2 linked regions of the Homo sapiens genome follow. The protein of the gene in region 1 interacts with the protein of each later gene in a biochemical or structural test. Each region holds a gene or a part of one and is shown in the gene's direction. Other genes may lie near its edges.

Evidence for each region. The genes of interacting proteins can lie anywhere in the genome.
Region 2: the proteins of BAG2 (region 1) and LRRK1 form a complex in vitro, tested with the Homo sapiens proteins (2 studies listed by BioGRID and IntAct, with this or other methods).

The regions. Positions count from the first base shown.
Region 1 is NC_000006.12:57,167,702-57,175,327, forward strand, and holds the start of BAG2 (BAG family molecular chaperone regulator 2), read left to right. Parts: upstream 1-4,624; 5' UTR 4,625-4,996; coding exon 4,997-5,109; intron 5,110-5,168; exon of another isoform or gene 5,169-5,760; intron 5,761-6,501; exon of another isoform or gene 6,502-6,680; coding exon of another isoform or gene 6,681-6,694; intron 6,695-7,626. Other genes in the region: E3 SUMO-protein ligase ZNF451, read left to right, coding at 722-768. UniProt on the Homo sapiens protein: Co-chaperone for HSP70 and HSC70 chaperone proteins. Acts as a nucleotide-exchange factor (NEF) promoting the release of ADP from the HSP70 and HSC70 proteins thereby triggering client/substrate protein release.
Region 2 is NC_000015.10:100,922,350-100,929,374, forward strand, and holds part of LRRK1 (leucine-rich repeat serine/threonine-protein kinase 1), read left to right. Parts: intron 1-2,161; 5' UTR 2,162-2,283; coding exon 2,284-2,380; intron 2,381-7,025.

The DNA.
Region 1 (7,626 bases):
AGGCCAAGAAATTGACACCAAATTTCACCCTCCTGGATTTTAGCATCATTCCCAAGGAGGAGATGGAACTCAACTATTGTGAACCCAATAACGTCTGTCTTGTTCACTATTACATTGCTGTTCCTGGTATATAATGGGCATTCAATAAATATTTGTCAAATGAGTTTACATACATCTGCATACAGCATATATTATATGCTTCTCAGATGACATTTATGTGGCTATGAGTTTCACTACCTTAGATGCTAGGATGCTTTAAGCTAATTTTTCCCCAGCTTTATTGAGGTATAATTAAAAATTAAACTAAATTTTTAATGGCCTGTGACATTTTGTCATTTCATGGAGTTGCCTTTCTGTTTAAAGTCTTATATGTATCACCTCAAGTCTTTTAGCAAATAAGTGATACAGATTTTTTTTTAAATGTTGAAACAAATGATTACCTGTCAGTGATTTTAAAAGTTTGTTGACTTTCTACATTCCTAAGTGGAATTAACTTGCAAGTTCTAAGTTCATATATAAAATTCAATTCAAGATCATGTCTAGATTTTCATATTTCAAAATACTCAATTTTTTAGTAGAGAAACTGCCAAGTTATCCTGTGTTTTTCCATTTTGATTTTACTTTCCTTCTTGAAAAGAATACAGTCGATGAAACTTAAATAAATACAGCACATGTTGAGTTTTCTGCCCTAAGTGTTAAAATTCTATGTTTTTTAATGCAGATGTGGAATTAGAAGAAGCTATTAGAAGAAGTCTTGAGGAAATGTAATTAAAGATATTACCACACAACATCAAGTGGCCTTGAAGAGACTGAGATAACGAATTCTTGAGTTTGTTTTCTAAAGGAGACCAGAAATCCACTATTACAAATGTATTTGAAAACATGTTTTTGCTTTCATATGTTCAAAATCTGATCTTTGTTTTGTATTTTTGTGCTAATGTGCAAACATGTACAGAAGAAATAGAATACATGTTCATGCAAATATAAATTATGTATTCTAATATAGGTGTAACAGTTTCCCAGTTAACTTTGAATTTATATATTTAGATTTAAAGGATTAAAAAAAAGGAAAGCTCTTGACAGTTGTTTCCCAAATAGCATTAGTTCTTTAATTTTATTTGTACTGTACAAATGATGCTAGTTTATTTTTTTAGCAGTGAAAATGAATATAAAAAAGGTGACATAGGTCAAGTTTTCCATAAATTCTACTTCTCATGTGGCACTATTATATAATACCTTTGAGATCTTTGTTTATGTTTATTAGAAGAGGGTAATGGAAACTGATCATGGAAACATTTAAAATTTTATCAGCAATGTTCTTTGTGGGTGCCATGCATATGTAAATTATTGCTTTAATTAGAGCAGCACATTGCTAAAATAAAAAATACACCTTAATTTTTAAGAAATAATTTAAATGAAACAATTTCCATTCCTTTTACCTGCTTAGACTTTTATGTGACTTGTATGGTCTCCTGGTTAAAGGGAATGGTGTCAGAATATTTGCATAAAATTATTTTTCATAACAGTCCTTTTTTATATATTGGTGTAAACATAATATTCTTCAAGAAATAATGTTGAAAGCCTACTCAGGAATAATCTTCCTTAACTCTTTAAATTTTTATTTCATGTGAAGTGTTTTCAGTTTAGTTATTCACTGAATTGTCAGTTTCCTTCATTTGGTATTACATATTTAATTCTTAAATATTGAGGCCCCATTGTGAGTAATAAAAAATACGACATAAGTAGAAGACTAAGAAGGGCTTGTCATATTATCTTTGTGTATATGCTTCATGTTATTTAACCAGAAATGTCTTATCTCTAAAAATTTTTAGTAGTAATTATTTACCAAACTTAAAAACATTTCTATAAATATAAAGCTTTTCTTTATATTTAAGACAAAATATAAAGGCTAGAATTTGGTTCCTTCTCTGTAACACTAAATATTTTAGTGTGAAATTGAATTTTTTTATTACTATAGTCTTTTCAATCTATAATTTGTGTTTTTAATTTCTTGATATGTCACTTCTGTTCCTCCCTGCTTGCATTTTTTAAAAACTAGACATTGTGGCTTGAGAATTTATCAATCATCTTTCCGAAATGACCACATTGTGCTTTTAGTTTGTATGTTTAAGTGGTCAAGCAAGGCTCTAGGAGGTAGTCACTGAGCTGGACCTTAAACACATCTGCAGGAGCTCACAAAATGGGAGCAAAAGAGGCATTCCAGAAAGAAGAGTAGTTAAGCAGATGTGGGGGCAGGGCAAGAGGAGACAGCACCTTGTTGCCAGAGATTCTACACAAAGGTGTGATGGACACTGATGCTCTATTAAGAAGCTTTTGTGGTGTGTGTGGTAGAGAATAATTAAGGCTTCTGATAAGACAGGAAAGGGATATTTCATCATGACTGTTAAGAAAAGGTAACTGGGTTGTTTAATGTTTTAATTGATAATTGTCACTGATCGTATTTCTACTTGTTAAATAATTAAAAATCATCTTAAAATTCATACTTTGACTTTAATTTAGACACAAGGAGATGTAATCGCTGTGTAACATCAGAGAAAGCTATATGGATTATCGTCAGAAGTAAATGTTTCTAACATTGACAAAGATGCTTATCTTTTCATTACATCATTCACTCATTAATTCATTCAATCACAAAATATTGAGTACCCACCATGTGCCAGCAACTGTTCTAAGCACTTGGAATATACCAGTAAGCAAAACAAAGCCCTTACCCCTCTGTGGAGCACATATTGGTGGAGAGGAGGGGATTGTACAATGTTAGTAAGCAAGGCAATAAAACTGCATATCTGATGGTGATACGTGTAACGACGGAAAATAAAGAAGGGAAGGGAATAAATAGTGCAGGGACAGGGAGTTGGGGGGAGGCTTGCTATTTTTAATAGGGTTGTCAGAAAAGATCTCACTGATAGGTAAACTTGAGCAAAGACCTGAAGAAGGTGAGGGAATGAGGATGAAAATACATATCGGGAAGAGAGTTCCAGGTGGAGGAGGTTAAGGTCCAGACAGGAGCTTAGTATATTCAAGGAAAAGCAAGAAGACTAGTATGGCTGACAGGATGAGCTAGGAGAGTAATAGGAAATGAACTTACTGAGGTTTTTCTAATGACCTGGGCTTTTACTTTGAGGTAAGGAGCCAGTGAAGGTTTCTGAGAATAAATGGTATGATCTGCCTTATTTAGGATTGCTGTAGTTGCTGCACTGAGATAACATGTACATGAGAGGCAAGAGTAGAAGCAGGGAGACCAGAGAGGAAGGTATTGTAGTATTCCAGGTGCAAACTCACCAGGTAGCTTGAACCAGAATGGTGGCGGTAGAATTGGGAAGAATCTGGATATATTCTGAAGGCAAAATTGATGGGGTTTACTAATGGTGTGGATCTAGGATAAGAGAGAAAAAGAGTTCAGGATGATTCTAAAGTCACTTGATAGACTTTCAAACCACTCACAAAATGTGTTTTGTTTTCGTTTGTGTCATGATAAAGTTATTTTTAATAAGGTCAAATAATCCCCTACCCCAAGAGTTAATTAGGATTTAAAATGAGTTCAGAGGGAATTGGGATCCAGCCTTAAGGGCTTCAACTCTGTTCAAGTATTTAAATGGCTTTGATCTCTGATTAAAGGTGGTGGCTCAGCTTTAAACTATTATTATCTATCATTTTCTGTGCCCTGTACATTGTCATCCTTGCAATGAGAGGCATAGAGCTATCAGGAGAGGGGACTAAAGCCTAACTTTTTAAGTAGACTAATCTTTGTATCCTCAGCTCTATTCCGTCTTTTACCGACAGCTGGTGCCTGACCTAGAGGCCTACTGCATCTTTTTTGTTAACAGGATTTTTAAAAGTTGAGGACTTTTTAATGCCAATTATTTCACTCAGAATATTTATTTATTTATTTATTTTTTTGAGACAAGGTCTCGCTCTATCGCCCAGGCTGGAGTGCAGTGGCGAGATCTCGGCTCGCTCAACAGGAATAATTTTAATAGCAAAAATTTAAAACCCCTTCATTAAGCCAGGCGTGGTGGTTCACATCTGTAATCCCAGCACTTTGGGAGGCTGAGGTGGGAGGACCGCTTGAACCCGGGAGGTCGAGGCTGCAGTAAGTCGTGATCGCGCCACTACACTCCAACGTGGGCGACAGTTAGACCCCATCTCAAAAACAAAAGAAAATTAGAATGGTAAAAATGAAGTAAATTCACTTTGCTTCCCACATCTAGCTAGACAGGGAAAGATGGAGTAGCTTTTTCTTTTTTACTTCATAGCTTCAGTGTTGTCCGGGCTTTCATTACTCTCATCTCAGTATAAAGTGGTAACAGGAAGGTCAGGTGAGTGTGGGCTGCCTACGAGCTGTACTTACTGCCTTCTGTTTCACAAAAGGACGTTTTCTCCCCATAATGTCGTTGTTCTTGCTTTGAATTATGGGTGCTGGGAGAAACTAAACGAAGCCGTCACTGAGCAATACACCCACAGCCCGTCGACCGATAGGAACCTTCGCGTGGGGGGAGTTGGTTACTTTTAGGTTGCATGAAGAGGCGGGGCCTCGCGGGGCGGAGCTGGGGGTGGTCTGTGGGTCCGCGCGGGCTTCGGGTAGTTCCTGGGTCCGGGGAGCAGACGATCCGCTAGCCACATTAGGCGCTCGGTCTCTGCGTCCGCCCCTCCCGTGCCTCAGAGACTTGCGCTCCCCAGGCCCGAGCCCCTGTCGGCCCATCCTCGAGCCCGTGTGGCTCGCGAACCTCTAACTCCAGCCGCTGCAGCCCCCTCCCAGGCCCGGCGTCCCCGAGCCCCGCGGGCGCCGCGCCTGCCCTTCTTTGGCTACGCTGCAGCCGCGGTGTCGGCGAGTCCTCCCGGGTTGCCCCCGCGGGCGTCAGAGGGAGGGCGGGCGCCCGCGTGGTGACGGCGACGCCTGCAGCCCAAGGAGCGCTCCACTCGCTGCCGCCGGAGGGGCCGGTGACCTCTTGGCTACCCCGCGTCGGAGGCTTAGATGGCTCAGGCGAAGATCAACGCTAAAGCCAACGAGGGGCGCTTCTGCCGCTCCTCCTCCATGGCTGACCGCTCCAGCCGCCTGCTGGAGAGCCTGGACCAGCTGGAGCTCAGGTGAGCTCCGGGCGGGCGGTCTCGGGCGTTCTGCTCGCCGCGCGGGCGGTTCGCGGGCGGTTAGCGGACGGAGGCCGCGTGTGGCGGGCCGGGGCCTGGGGCACAGTGAGGCTGCGGCAACCGAAGTTGCTTGTTGAGATTTGTTGTGGATGGACGTGGTGTAGTTTTGTTTGTTTCTTGGATTATCTCCCCTAGTCCGAGAGAAAACGCATTCGATTTAAGCTAAACCTGTGAGGGCGTTATCGGTGGCCACACTTTGATTAATTTACCTAGGTGTTAGGGAGCGGAAAAAAATCAGAGGAGATAAAAGTTACAGTGAGATTCCATGCGATTAAGGACTGTGGCAGCTTGGGTCTGCAGAACTTCTAGAACCTTCTGTGTGGCCCCAAACGTTTTAACTTACTCTTCTCGTTATGCATTTTTTAAGGGAGGCAGCAGTTTACAGTGGCCCTCCACGTGAAGTTAAGTTTCCTTGCTTCAGAACAAAAATGAATAAAACAAAACCAACCCAGCAATCCATTGAGAGCAAAGATTAGACAGGAGTGAGGGGTAGGCAGTAAGTTACCGGGTGCTTCGTGCAGCAGAGACGTTGCCGCTTCTGTTTCTCCCCTAACCTCGCGGACGGGATTCAGCGGTTCCGTTCGTCTCTCGGTATTTATTGGGCACCTCCCTACATAGAAGACTAAGTGCTAGTTACTGGCCTGAAAGCATGAAAAGATAGTTTTCCCCTTTTCTTGCTTAAGAATTTATTTGGTAATACAGTAGTAGACTTGTATAGAATTTCTAAACAATTTAATGTTAATAGATTTTTGGAAAGACTTTAACGGTGTATTGAAAAGTTTTATCTACTTCCTGTGAACGTTTGTCTCAAGTTACTGTGTAAATTTTGTGAGCAGGTGTAGTTAAAAGAAAATCTTGTTAGGCACCTGCAATTCCGTGAAACTGTACACAGGAGTTGGTTACATAGTTTTGTCTAGGTTGTGCATGAGCAAAGAAGCATGTGAGCCAAAAAGTTTAGGAAACACTGCATGTGTGTCTTTATCTTCCTACATTAATACACCCAAACATGAAGTATCTGTTTGCTGAGAAAATACTTCAATAACCACGGTATCTCTTAACAAGTGAGGCATTATTATTGTTACTATTGGGAGAAAAGAGCCAGAGAGTGAGAGATTCTCCACTCAAAATAATTTCTTGGATTATTAAGCCCTACACCAGGTTCTGGGGTTCCACTCAGAATGAGGCAAGTGGAAGAGAGAAGTAATGCTTCCTCATGGATTTTCACAATACTGGCAAACCTGACCGTTCCACTCCCAGAAAAAGTAGAGCGAAAGTAGAAATTGGTGGCCTCAGTTACTTGAAGTCCCTCTAACTGGTAATGTTTCTTTTTAGGGAGCCACATAACAAGTAACACACATCTCTCCATGTCTTCAGAACGTTGAGGGCATGTTCTCAACCACTTCATTCTCCTCTCCCTTAGCCAGAAAGAAAAGTTTTCCTAAAGGAATGGGGAGGTTGTTACTCCACTCCGCCTTCCTTCAAGCTGAGTCATTGTCCTCCAACTTGAATTAATGCCTCACATGTGGTAGGTACAAAAGCACTCTGAAGTGCTCCTCTTTAAAAGAAAGCCTCAGGTTTTGAATATTATTATATTCTACTGTTTGATTAATGTAAAATGAATTCTGATTGCACATCAGTGATTAAATTACAACTTGCTTAATTAACATTTGAGCTGAGGAGAAAAGTGATTAATATGTGGCTGTTCATTTCAAGGACTTTTTTTTAGTAATTCTGGACTTTTGTAGGCCTTTTTTCTTCTTTTTAAAAAAGTAATACTAGCTGAAAAGGAAGGATTTCCGAAGGTAAGCAAAAATAGAGAAAAATGCTAATGTAGATCCTATTAAAGTTTTTTTTGAAACCACATGGGCAATGGCACTGAACACTATTAAAAACTAGAATCATGCGTAGAAGATCGATTTTTAAAAGAAAACATGAAACTCATATGTAATTTTGCTCTAATAGTTTGATTTTGTTGACTAATAAAGTAGTGTAACTGTGTAGAATAAAACCTTATAGTTTGTACTTAGAAGTGTGCACTTAATGTTCCCTAACCACACTGATCCTGTCAATTGTGGAAGAAATTTCATACTTTATGACCTGGAGTATGAACTGATCTACATGATGTTTAAAATGTTTGGCAGCAGTTTTACAAACTGTTAAAGGATTTCCATTTATCTCTAATGGAATTTATCAATACAGTAGCCCTTTTTTTTGGACTGCATTTTGTCTTCTGTATTTCTTCCTTCTACAGAGGTGATTCCCTTTTCTCCGTTTTGACGATCAGTTCTAAATGGACTCTGAGTTTTGCATTCTTCAGTGGCTCAAACCATCTTGCTTACTATTGTTACTTTTTAACAATTATTGTAATTTGTAAAAAATACTATGATATTACGATTCTCTCTCTCTGTATATATACAACGTTTTCCTGGCTCATAACTCCCATAACCCTTGTTACAG
Region 2 (7,025 bases), on another chromosome or scaffold:
TCCACTGGTAAAGTGATTTTCAAAAGGAAACTGAAAATGAAAAGGGGAACAAAATGTGCTGGGTGAGGGTTAGCCTGAAATAATTTTAAGATTTTTTTTTTTTTAGAACTTAAAAACATTGTATGGTAAGACACTTCTGTTTTCAGGAAGAATGTCTAGCGTTTGGATTTTTGAAATGCTGTTGGTTATGTGCGGTAGCTGTTTTGGAGAGGTGTCTGAAAGCAGATGGCAACTGTGCTTCTCAGTTTCTGGATGTGAATGTGTGATCGGAACGTTTATTTTAAAACAGATTCTGTCTTGCTGGCTCTTCCTCTCTCTGTCACAAGTTGATTTTCCAAATCAGGTTTTGCTATTTATAAGGCTTTCATCATCCCCTAAATTTTGCCCAGATTGATCGTTTTTCCTTTCCTCCTTCGACTTTTCAGGCTTCCCAACTTCAAACACAGGTGTTTCCCACACGTGGTTTGTGTCGACCATCCCTTTTGCCTCTGAAACATGTGCAGCTTGCACAAGGCTGCTGGAGCCTGGCTTTTCTAGCTCCACCTTTCCCTGCCTTGACGAGTCCAGTCCACCTGGGCCAGGTGCCTGAGTTCTAGGCTTTTAGGTGAGAAATTCCCACAGCCTTGTCCTGTACCTTACTTCGTGCCCCTACTGCTCACGGCATCTTCTAGAACCTACCCGCTGGTGAGGCTGGCATCTGCCCTCCAGCATTGATATTCTGATCTTATTAATTAGCAGGGAAGTGGGAGACCCGCTGGCCTCCAAGTCTGTGCGCTGGTACTACAGGTAATGACCACCCCAGCCCTGTCGTAGAGAGAGGCTGCAGAAACTTCACTTTGGTTGAATTCACACAGTAACCCCACTAGCAGGCCCGGGCATAAGGGTGGATGTCTATTTTTAACAGGTGAAAACTGAGACACACATACCTTTCAGCTGGGAGTCACACTGCGAACATGTGACACAGGCAGTCCACACCTTTAACGTCCACGCTATGCTTTTGCCTGTACAGATTCTCTTAGGCATTATTTTTATATAACCTTGATTTAAAAAATATATTTTTGGCTGCACTATCACTCCCCATTTCAGAGTTGTCTATCTGAGAGAACACAGACAAGAGGTGCTAATTACCTCGTACTTCATCACATGTAGGATATGCTATAAGAACAAGGATAGGCGCACATGCATTACTTATGGTAGTACCTCATGTCAGGCCTGAGCTAGGCATGGGTCTTACCCTCCCTCTGGTCCTTCAATCACCATACCAGGATGGGCACTTATGCCCATGGGGGGACTCTAAGCTCAGTGGGGGCCCAGCATAGAAGAGCAGCACTTGGTCTCAGTTTATCATAGTCATTAGTTTCAGAGATTAGTCTAACTCCACCCTGGAACTTTTGGGGCCAGATAATTCTTTGTTGCAAATAGCAGTCCTGTACATTGTAGGATGTTTAGCAGCATCATTGACCTCTACCCATTAGAGGCCTGTAGCACTCTCCCCCAGCCAAGTTGTGGCAACCAAAAATGTCTCCAGACATTGCCAAATGTCCCCTGGGAAAGGGGCAGAATTTTTGAGGCTCATGTCTGCTAACCTCCGTCATTTAGCTTTCTGCTAAAGCTCATGCTAACTTGACTTCATAACCAGTAATAATTCCATGTCTTTGGAACTGTTGCCTGACCACCCCCTTGGGATGACGTGCTCACCTCTGGCTTCCAGAAGAACTGGCCCCGGGCAAAAGGAGAGCCTTGTATCGTGACTAACCTTAACTATGTCTGCCCTACCCCCACTGGAGTGTGCCCCTGAGGGCAAGAGCCTCCTTGAGCCATCTTGGTGCCACTGAGCCTCACACAGAGCCTGGCTACCTTGCATGTGACAGTAGGTGTGCGTTGACTGAACAATGATTGAAGCTGTTACCAGTATGTGTTTTCCAATTGTCTGGGGTTTGTTTGAGACTCTTCTCAGGTAGACAATACCTGAGCCCCGCATCAAGATGGGATGGGGGGAGCTGTGCCTTCCCACTGACCACACCTGATGGGTTTGGCTGGATAGATGGACTACAAAAAGGAATGTTGCAGAGGGAAAACTAAATGAACCCATGCAAATATTTGCAGGGGAGGAGGACAGGAATTATAAAGGCTTTCTGTTTTGATTGTTTTTCGCCACCAGAGCAAGAAAGCTTTCTGCTCAGCCATGGCTACGAGTCCACGCCTTAATGCACCCCACAGCCAGCGGCAGTGGCAGTGACAACAGCGGGACCTGCCTTTGAAGATCGGCTGCTGCAAGGGTTGATGGCTGGCATGTCGCAAAGACCCCCCAGCATGTACTGGTGTGTGGGGCCGGAGGAGTCAGCTGTGTGTCCAGAACGTGCCATGGAGACGCTTAACGGTAAGGACAGGGCTGTGCTTATGCCTGCCTGGGTGTGACCTGCCATGCTCATCCTGCAGGGTGTCTAGGCTATGTAAGAACAAGGAGTTCTCAACCAGTGGAAATCAAATGTCCATCATTTGGTGCTCTTTCATCATATAATATATCTTGGGACTCTTAAATTCTAAAAATTGAGGAACAGTGTACAAAATTTATTGTGGACTCACAGATCTTAACAATTGGGACATCACTTCATGCTGGGTTAAAGAACTTTTAAGAAAAAGGATGTAGTTTTGTTTTTTCATTATAAAAATAATACATGTTTATTAAGGAAAAATTGAAAAAAATAATTTAAAAAAAAGGAAGAAGGGAAAGGAATCATCCAGAATCCCGCTATCTCAAACACAAGTACAATGAGCATCTTGGCATGTTCTCTCCTAGTCTCTGCTTCTCTGTGTTTAGGGGACTTTGTTTTAACCTTATTGTACTTACAAGGTGTATGTAATGTTGCATGTTGCTTTTTTCTCTTCACCGTCCATCAGTGACATTTGCTTAGGGCACCACCTGGCTCCCGCAATCAAGTGAAACATCATTTCATTTATTTTATTTTATTTTTTTACGATTTAATAATTGGATCAAAAAATGATTCATAAATTGGGCAGTACTCCGAACCAAAACAAACATCATTATCTGCGGGAGTGCTATGTGCAGTTATTGACCTAATCCTTATTCTCCTGTGGGACATTTGGGTTGCTTCTAGTTGTTTACTCCTACTGAGAGCATTTCCTTCCCATCTCTTCATACCTGGTTTCAAGGTTATTTCTGTAATGCAGGTTTACAGAAGTTGAATGATTGGTCTTGAACATCGTTAAGCTCTTGGCACGTATTTTGCCAGATTTTCCGCTACACTTGCACCACCTTTAAGACCAATAGGATATCATCGTTTACAAATATTTGTCAATCCCTTAGTATGTACCAGGCACTACATGTACAAAGTTCAGAACTTTACGAAATAATGTCATAAAATCCTCACGACAACCTGGCACATGGTACTTTTATTTCCGTTTTATAGCTGAGGAACATGAGGGTAAGAGAAGCCTGGAAACGTGTTCAAGGTCAACAACTCAGAAATCACAGAATTGCCATCTGAACCCTGTCTTAATGCTGCAACACTCATTCTTAAATGCTAGGCCACACTATGGGAGGTGAAAGGGTCAACAGGTTGGGTCTGAGAGGCCCACGTTTGTACCCTTAACCGTGTTAACTAACGATCGGCCACTGTACCTGGCTTGGCAGACACTTTGTTCAGTTGTTTGAGTGTTTTCACTCCATCTGAAATGTCCAGCAGCTGACCAGGGTGATGTTTCTGGAAGGTGTCGTTTCACATCCATCACATTATGAAATGGGAAACGAATTTGCTTCTTGACATTGCCCAGCACTAAATCTTTCCAGAGTGTTCAACTTGCATCTTTGTAAATTTTCTTTTTCTTTGTATTAGACGTGTGTCTTTTTTCAGTTGTGTGGTAGGAAGACCTTGCTCTGTTGGTGTGAGATCGAGGTGGCGTGGGTGATAGAACGCAGTCCCCGATTTGGGGGTAGCACCTCCACCTTTCCAGTGCACGTGAGGCTCCCTTATCCTCCTGCTGCTCCTCTTCGCAGCCCTGAGGGACGAGGGTGGGGACAGGGACCTTGGGTCTGTTTGGGGCCTGTAGGGTAGGTGACTGTGTCATCTGAAAAAGCCCACAGGAGGCGCTGCTCCCTCCCCTCCTGGTCAACAGTTGGTGATCTAAAGGAGTGCTTCTCAACCACGGCCCACACAGTCACTGGGTAGTGGCTCAAACCGGCAGGGCCCTGGCACCACCTGGACCCACTGGAGCAGCATCTTGGGGCAGGGGGGCGGGGAGTGAACAAGCATGGGTAATTTTTTCTTTTTCATTTTCTTTCTTTCTTTTCTTTTTCTTTTCTTTTTTTCTTTTTTTTTTTTTTTTTTTTTTGAGACAGTGTCTTGCTCTGTCACCCAGGCTGGAGTGCAGTAGCATGACCTCAGCTCACTGCAACTTCCACCTCCCAGGTTCAAGTGATTCTCCTGCCTCAGCCTCCTGAGTAGCTGGTACTACAGGCGTGCGCCACCACGCCCAGCTAATTTTTGTATTTTTAGTAGAGACGAAGTTTCACCATGTTGGCCAGGCTGGTCTAGAATTCCTGACCTCAAGTGATCCACCCACCTCAGCCTCCCAAAGGGGTGGGATTACAGGTGTGAGCCACGGCGCCCGGCCAGCATGGCTAATTTTTCAAAGTTCCCTAGTGATTCTAACGTGTAGCTAAAGTTGAGAATCAGGCCATCTAAATGGTTTGAGTCCCATAGAGCAGCACTTCTCAAATTATCAGGTGCACATGTCCCCTGGGGATCCTGATGAAATGCAGAATCTCATTCAGGAGGCCTGGGGCACAGACAGCCTGCGTTTCTAGGTCCCCAGGGATCCCCCGTTGATTCTTACAGGTCCCAGGGACCGGGGCGCAATGGGCTTTGGACAAACCCATCCCCACCTCCAAGCTCGTGGCAGGACAGATAACCAGAAAATGTTAAGGTGTTCCGAAAGGCCAAAGTGTGGCACTCCCCAGCCCCCATGATTCTCCCTAAAGGCCTGCATCTGAGCTTGGCACTGCTCCTTAGGAGGTGTCCTCTCCTGACTCTGCTCTGATGGCCTCTTTCCCCAGTGGGATCTCAGGAATCCCTGCTATCCCTGTTCTGTATAACCCAAGGGACACACACAAGGGCCAAGGACCCTGACGTGACCTCAGCAGCCTTCACTGTGTACTGTTCAAGGAGCTTGAAGTAGGGACAGGACAGGGAAGTGACACCCTGGGAACCCCTGAGAATGAGGGAGGTGTTTGTGCAGTGACCTAATACAGAGAACACAGAGTTGAAGAGGAGAGGAAGATAGCCTGAAACACCCCAGAAAGTTCTGTCCCCTGTTTAGCATTAAGAAAATTATGTTACATGTTAATGAATTACAATAATAACCAAATCCTCATAAGGAATCTGGTGAGAAGCTACTAATTTATACCCATACTCAGAGTTTTAAGGTCCCACAGGTGGTACCAGCAGAACTGAGCCTGTGAGCCCCAGCCCTGGAGCTCACTAACAGAAGTTATTAATTCCAGGGACTAAAGCCTACAGTGCTCCCTCTGTAAAGCCCAATTTTAACGCATTGCATGTTGGATTTCATTTTCGCAGAATATATTAATAAATGTGTACACTAAGACTACAGCCAAGGAGCAGGTAATGCTCAAAGGGTGGCGTGTGGCCACGTCTGTGTGCTGGGATTGCAGTCACTGTGCTTTGCTCATCGGTGCTGTTTATGTTTCCTGCAATATCTACACATTGCTTTTTGTTTTGTTTTGCCTTCTTTTGCATCCAGACGAATAATATTGCAAGTTATTTTTAAATTATTGTTTATTTAAGTACTGATGATTTGTGTTTAGAATCTAAACGGTAAACCTCCTGTGCTTACATCCAAAGTTAGATCTGCCTCCACTGGCCTCTTTGCCTTGAAGTCTTTCTGGAATAAATGCGGAATACTTGACTTACTATGACTGCAGCTGATCCCCCCGCAGGACTCACCCTCTGCACATGTCCCCAGAGCCTAAGCTGGATTTGTCCCATCCCACCTTCTCCTAGACTTCCTGGGATGATAGGGAGCCCTGTTTCCCCTCTCCCACCCCCCAAATCCACCAGCCTCACTCAGGGAACACTGTTCAGGCCTAATTTCCAGCTCCGGCTGAGAAAAGTTGGCCGCCAGAAGGAAAACTAACGACACTCAAAATTATGTAGGGACAGCTTTCTCATGCTTTAAAAATCCTTGGAAGATAACGTGATTGAAAACGACGACGTTCTTATTATACTTCCACGTGTGCGTTAGAAAAAGACCCACACTTTAAAAAAGAGTGTCTACTCTTGGGTGTTGGGGTAATGGTATTTTTAATTTTTTATTTGTGTACTAGGCACGCCTTTTCACACCCCCTACCTGTTGTGACTTGCGTGACCTCAGCTCATGTTTGTTTACAATGGTTAATCCTTTCAAAGCCCCTGGATGTGGGGGGCTTTGCCCAGCTGGTGTGAGGCTGGGGTCTGTGTGTGTCTGCCCTGCCGTGCGGCCCGCTGTGTGTTTGTGCAACACAATTGTGTCCCAGGAAGGTGTGTGACAATCTCAACCTCATTAGCACCAGCAGCAGTCAGCTCGCCTGCGGTGCAAGAGGAATGGTTGGAAAGCTTTGATGGGCGTAGAGTTTGCCAGCTGACAGAGCAGCTGTCAATGAGATGCTGGGCATGGGCTGCAGGACGCGCATTACTTTGACAAACATGTCATTAGATGTTCATTCTTCTGAGTATGTCTGACACCAGCCAGAGTGGAAAAACCAGTCCCGCCAGCCAAGGAGAGCTGTCCTGGAAAGTAGAGAAGTCAGGAAACTTCCACATAATTCAGGTGGAGAATACTTGGGAAGACTTCTGGATTGCGGAGGGTGGGTGGAACTTGAGCAGACATCACCCAGGCAGTGGCTCGCCCCCCCAGCTCTCTGTGAGTGGCCGTCGCTTCGGTCCTGAAAGCCCTGCCACAGTCACACACCTCTCAGAGCACTGCCCACCACCGGACCCAGCATGGAC